Regions from separate parts of the Homo sapiens genome. Here region 1 is linked to region 2. The links come from fine-mapping of genetic effects on gene expression. A gene starts in region 2. The other region holds a variant in brackets. All regions are shown on one strand. Distances are between the middles of the regions.

The links. PIP is the estimated chance that this variant, and not a neighbour inherited with it, causes the effect.
Region 1: its variant is the best candidate, but not a certain one, in a credible set for the expression of LINC00448 in testis (GTEx, PIP 0.54).

The regions. Positions count from the first base shown.
Region 1 is chr13:62,818,747-62,821,693 of GRCh38, reverse strand. No RefSeq gene overlaps it. Among named protein-coding and RNA genes, the nearest start is that of LINC00448, 24 kb to the right of the region's middle. The variant G/A (reference allele first, on the strand shown) is at 1,563.
Region 2 is chr13:62,795,490-62,798,436 of GRCh38, reverse strand. LINC00448 (long intergenic non-protein coding RNA 448) reads left to right here and starts at 1,745. Exons shown (of 8, transcript NR_047029.1): 1 at 1,745-1,877.

The DNA.
Region 1 (2,947 bases), 23 kb before region 2:
CTTTTGTAATAGTGCAGCTTAGAACACACATTGTACCACTGTATAAAATATTTTCTTTATTTATATCCTTATTCTATATAGGTTTTTATATGTGAATCTTATTTTCTTTTACATTTTATACCTTTTTGTTAAAAACTATGACACAAACACACACCTTAGCCTAGGCTTACACAGGGTCAGGATTATCAAAGTCACTGTCTTGCACCTCCACATCTTATCCCACTGGAAGGCCTTCAGGGGCAATAACATGCATGGAGCAGACATTTTCTATGATAACAATACCTTCTTCTAGAATACATCCTGCAGGACTTGCCTGGGGCTGTTTTACAGTTAACTTCTTTTTATAAGAAGAAGGAGTATGCCTTAATGATAAAAAGAATCACATAGCAGATACATAAGCCAGTAACATGGCCATTTATTATTATATTCAAGTATTATATACTGTACATAATTGTGTGTTACATTTTTATATAACTGGGAGTACAATAGGTTTGTTTATACCAGTATCATTGCAAACACATGAGTAATGTGTTGCACTATGACTTTAGGATGGCTACAATGTCAAGTCAATAGAAAATTTTTAGGTTCATCATGATCTTAGGGGATCCTATTTTATATGCTGTTGGTCATGGACCCAAAGGTCTTTATGCAGCACATGACTGTGATTTAGAAAAAAAGATATATGTCTCCTGAATAATACACATTGCTTAATATTTAAATGCAGTCAATCTCTATTGAAAATTGATTGACTAATTGCAGTAACATGAACTGATGGCTCATTTTTTTTCTGCTTAAAACTCTCACATTCTTGATGCATACTGTTGGCATACTGTATATGAAAATTACTGATTTTGAACAAGCAATGTATGCCAGAAAATGTCATAAAGTTAATTTTATAGAGATAATATATCCAAAAAACTCTAAATTTTTAAGAGAAATCACTTCATCAGTAATATCCATGTACATTTAGATGTACATGGAACATTTAAATGATAGAACATTTAAATGATTGTGTCTGACAATGGGTGTGGCTACTACAACAGTTAGCAAGAACAACTTTATACGTGTTGGATCCAAGTGCTTCTTGAGATCCTCTGCTTTCCACCACCCATTCAAAGAGTGCCTTGCTCCAGTTGACTGACCTCTATATGACAATAGGAGAATAGAATTTTAGGTCATGGGGCAAAAATAAATGTTTAGGTACCAGAGAGTCTAAGCTTTAGTGGTAACCACTTATTATACAACTGCTATGAATTGCTGCCAGATGGCAACCGAAAACCTAAAGGAAGTTAGGACCATGCTCATGTTCAACTACTGTGGTGTGGGAAGCTCCTTGTACTATAAGATGCTGAGTTCAGTTATAAAACATGCACTTGGGGAAGTAAATGCCTTGGGTCCCATCCATCTTACTGAGAATCAATCCCATCCAGCTTAATGAATTGCTGCCACCGGGCAACTGAAAACCTAAGGGAAGATGGGACCAAGCTCATGTCCAACTATTGTGGTGTGGGAAACTCCTTGTACTATAAGAAGTTGAGTTCAGTTATAAAGCATCCACCTGG[G/A]GAAGTAAATGCCCTTGGTCCCATCCACTTTACTGAGAATCAATGCAAAGGGAATGTCTAGGGCCATGCATCTTATAATTCTGTTTGTGCCTTTATTTCTATTTTTTAAATCATGGGTCAGTAAAGTTTCATCTGTGGTCCAAATCTTGCTTGTGGTGTGCTTCGGAAATACAATTTTACTAGAATTTAGGCACAATTATTTGTTTACACATTGATGATGGCTGCTTTCAGGCTTCAACAGCATAGCTGAGTAGTTGTGATAAAGACAATGAGCTCTCGAAGCCCAAAATATTTACTATCTAGCTCTTTCAGTAAAAGTTTGCTGAACCTTCCTGGAACTCCCATTGTCTTTTTTTTTTTTTTTTTTTTTTTTTTATCTCATGAATGAAGTGTTTCCAAAAGAATATCAACTTGGGTTGTGTGTTTTTGTAATTATATATCTATATATTTAGAAAGGTATTGTTTAGCATTCTTATGTTCCAGTTATGTATTTTGAAAATCCTGTAACCTCTCTTTCACTTATGCAATGCTATGTATGACATCATTTCTCTGTCCCTTGAATAACAATTGGAATTTTTAATGAAACAAAAATTGATGTACTCAATATTTTAATGTGCCCACCAATAATGCATATATTTATGTTTGTGCCAGGAAGTGAGAAATACCAAATAAAACTCAAATAAAATAACAGCTTTTGGAAACAATTGGAAATTGCTATTTAACCTCATTTTGATGAAAGCCACTACAATGGAGGGGTCAGGCTCACATTTGATTCAACTCTATTGATCGAATATAGCATTATTAAAAGTGAGAGAATCAATCATTTTGTGCCTCCTGGTATGAAGTAAACAGCAGTAAACATCATCATCTTTAAAAATTTTGCCAAATATATTAAAACTATATTTAATCATGCTTATGGACCTATTTAACAGTTTTCAGGAAATAAAGGGACTAGAAAAAAATAACTATCAGACTTGAAGCTAAAACTGTTGGGAATATCCTGCTCCAGGGTGACTATAACATTCCTGCATCCATATTAGTTACTACAGGTACAATCCCAGAAAAACAGCCCACCTGAATCTAGTTCAAATAGCGGAATCATGAACAAACAAATGAATGTTGTTTTAAGGCACGATTCTGAGGTGGTTTCTCACAGAGCAGCAGAAAATTGATACTTTTGATAAAGTTGGGCGATTGTACATGGACAATATTTTACTAATCTTGCTACCTAAAAATATACTTGATGTTTTTATAATTTTTCAAAACTATGCCTTTTAGACCAATCTGTGGCTATAGTATTCCAAGTTAATTTGGTTGTTAAACATGTACACTTGCAAATATTTGAGAGGTAGAAGTAAAGAGGAGGGTATTTCCTTGCCCCTTTT
Region 2 (2,947 bases):
TTTAATAGCCATCATGGTTTTTATTAGTCCTCTGCAGCTACTGGTCCAGTCTCTTTTATAACTGAGATAGTGCTACTCCTAGGTCTTCCAACTTCCGTGTGCCTGTCTTTGCATTTTTTAAATCTCCTCATTAACTTGAAAACAGGACAGCACATTTCTAAGTTTTATGAAAATTTTTATCTTATGTAAAATGATAAAAGAGATTACATTTTAAAATCCCTTTTAGATACATGTTATTGTTTCTTCAGTCTCAGCTGCACTTCAACATCACTGCATTTCTTCTCTCTGATTCTTTTCCAAATGCACTTAACCTGGATTTATATATTTCCTCACTCAATTTCAATGTATTATTTTAATTCGATTATATGGAACACTTTATCACTGCCCCAGCAATTACTCCTGAGTTTGCAAACATGAGCCGACTAAGTCATTTGAAGCCACCCGCCCCCCAACCCCTCAATGAAAAAAACAATCTTAGATAAATGTTAAAACAAACAGGCAAACAAACATACGCATGTACAAACATACCTGTCCTTCCCTCCCTTTCTCGCTCTCTCGCTCTCACGCACACTCACCCATACACACACACACACACATATACACTTCTCAAAATAAAGGGCCATCGACTTAACAGACCTACTTTTACTCTCATAAACAATCATCACGTTTATAGCAATTAATTAAATATTTTATATTAATAGTTTTTGTAAGGCACATACATAAAGATAAGTACTAAAGGCATATTTGTGGAAAAAGCTCTATACTGTACATAGTCATTTCTTTTCTGGTGTAATAGAAGGAGTTATTTATTGTCAGTAAACACACTTATTTTTTGCTCTGGTTTTGTGTGAAAGACAGCTTATTCATTTTCTCTTCCAACCAAAACTTTTTGGAATACATCACATTAATAGCCAACTTATTTTAACACCATTTCCAAAACTCTTTTTTTAAACCTAAGTGTTAAGCACATTACATTACAGTGTTATAGTATATATCTACATTCATTCATGACCTATGTTCTTCTTCATTTTTCACAATTTTATAAAAACATATTGCATACATGTTACATTCCAAATAATTCATCCTCATTCTTGTGACAATACTTTATTGCATATAAATGCTGTATTTTGTTCTTGTATTGCTTTTTAAATGACGTATCTTTGAGCATTTTATAAATTATGTGTTTTCGTTATGCCAAAATATAATTGTACAAAAAATATAGGGTTGAGTTCTCAACAGGCTTTTAAGTTTAGCAAGTAGATCCTTAATAGAAGACTCACCCCTTCTTCTTGGAAGGATGGAAAATGGAATTTTATCTGCTTAATTTTCATATATACATATGAAACATATATAATATATAACATATATGAAACATACATAATATATGACATATATCAAACATATATAATATATAACATATATATGAAACATATAATATATAACATATATATGAAACATATATAACATATAACATATATAAGAAACATATATAACATATATATATATAATATGGAACACTTTATCACTGCCCCAGCCATATATATATATATATATATATATATATATATATATATATATATATATATAATGTTATGGACTGAATGCTTGTATCCTCCCCAAAATTTATATGTCAAAATTGAAACCCCCAATGTGATTGGATTAGTAAGTGAAACCTTTGTGAGGTGATAATGGCATGAGGGTGGAGCCCTCATGAATGGGATTAGAGCTCTTATGAAAGAGACCCCAGAGAGATCCCTTGCAAGTTCCACCATGTGAGGATACAGGGAGAAAATGGCAGTCTATGAACCAGGAAGCAAGTCTTCACCAGAACCCAGCTGTGCTAGCACCCTGAACTCAGGCTTTCAGCCTCCAGAACTGTGAGAAATACATTTTTGTTTTTATAAGCAAGCCAGTCTATGTTGTGTTTGTTATAGCGGCCCAAACAGACTAGGGCAATATATTATTGAGAAAGATAATGTTTCCCTTACACGCCAGAAATTAATCATCTGTATTCAGTAAAGCATACATTTTCTAAATCCAAACAACTTACTCAAAATTTTTAGACTTTAACCTCTAATTATATTTTTTACTTTAATATATTACATTTTATATACATTTAAAAATATATGTACCTATTCCATTCATTTTCAGCATCTTTTATCTTTTTGTTTTTTTGAACTTTGTAGCTCCATGTCTGAACTCATTTCTCTTTTGAAATGAGTAAAAATATATTTTTTTTCAAAAGGTCAATTCTGCCATTGTCATTTTGTTGCCTAAGGTATGAAAACTATATAAATGCTCATAAATGCAGTAAAAAAATAAAAACTTTCCTGTGAATCAGTATTGAGGTTAGTGCTCTTATCCTTGATGATGGAAAAGGCACTTGGCCTTGAGATCTTTGCAAGCTGAGGAGCTGGTGATTTTTTGTAGTTGTTACCTGATAATGCATTTTCACTTAAAAACTTGTTTCTCTCATTCTGAAAAGTATAAAAAATCAAGTTTTAACATTTTTTGAAGTTTTTTTCTATTTTCATATCTTTCTTTTATTATACATTGCTATGGCTGTATTTATTTCAGAAAATTCTATAAAATCTAATTCATGTAGAATGTAATATTAAATGTTTTTCAATATTTTAACAGATTTTATAATGAAATTATAGTACAGTACATTAAAGGACAACTAGACAACTTTAGTATTATCTTTACCCATTTTAGAATCCATTGCATGCAAGGAGATTTTATTACTTTGTTTTAAGGTAATAATTTTTAAAATGTATAGCCAAAAAAAATTAAGTATTAATATTGGGAGCTATCCCTTTAGCTACAACATCATGTCTATAGAAAGTGTTACTTCATTAACAAAAAGCTCTAGAAAAAATCAGTGATATGGTTAAAAGCTCCTGAGGTTGTAAAATTTTATACTGATTTTTGCTTTGCTACTTACTGG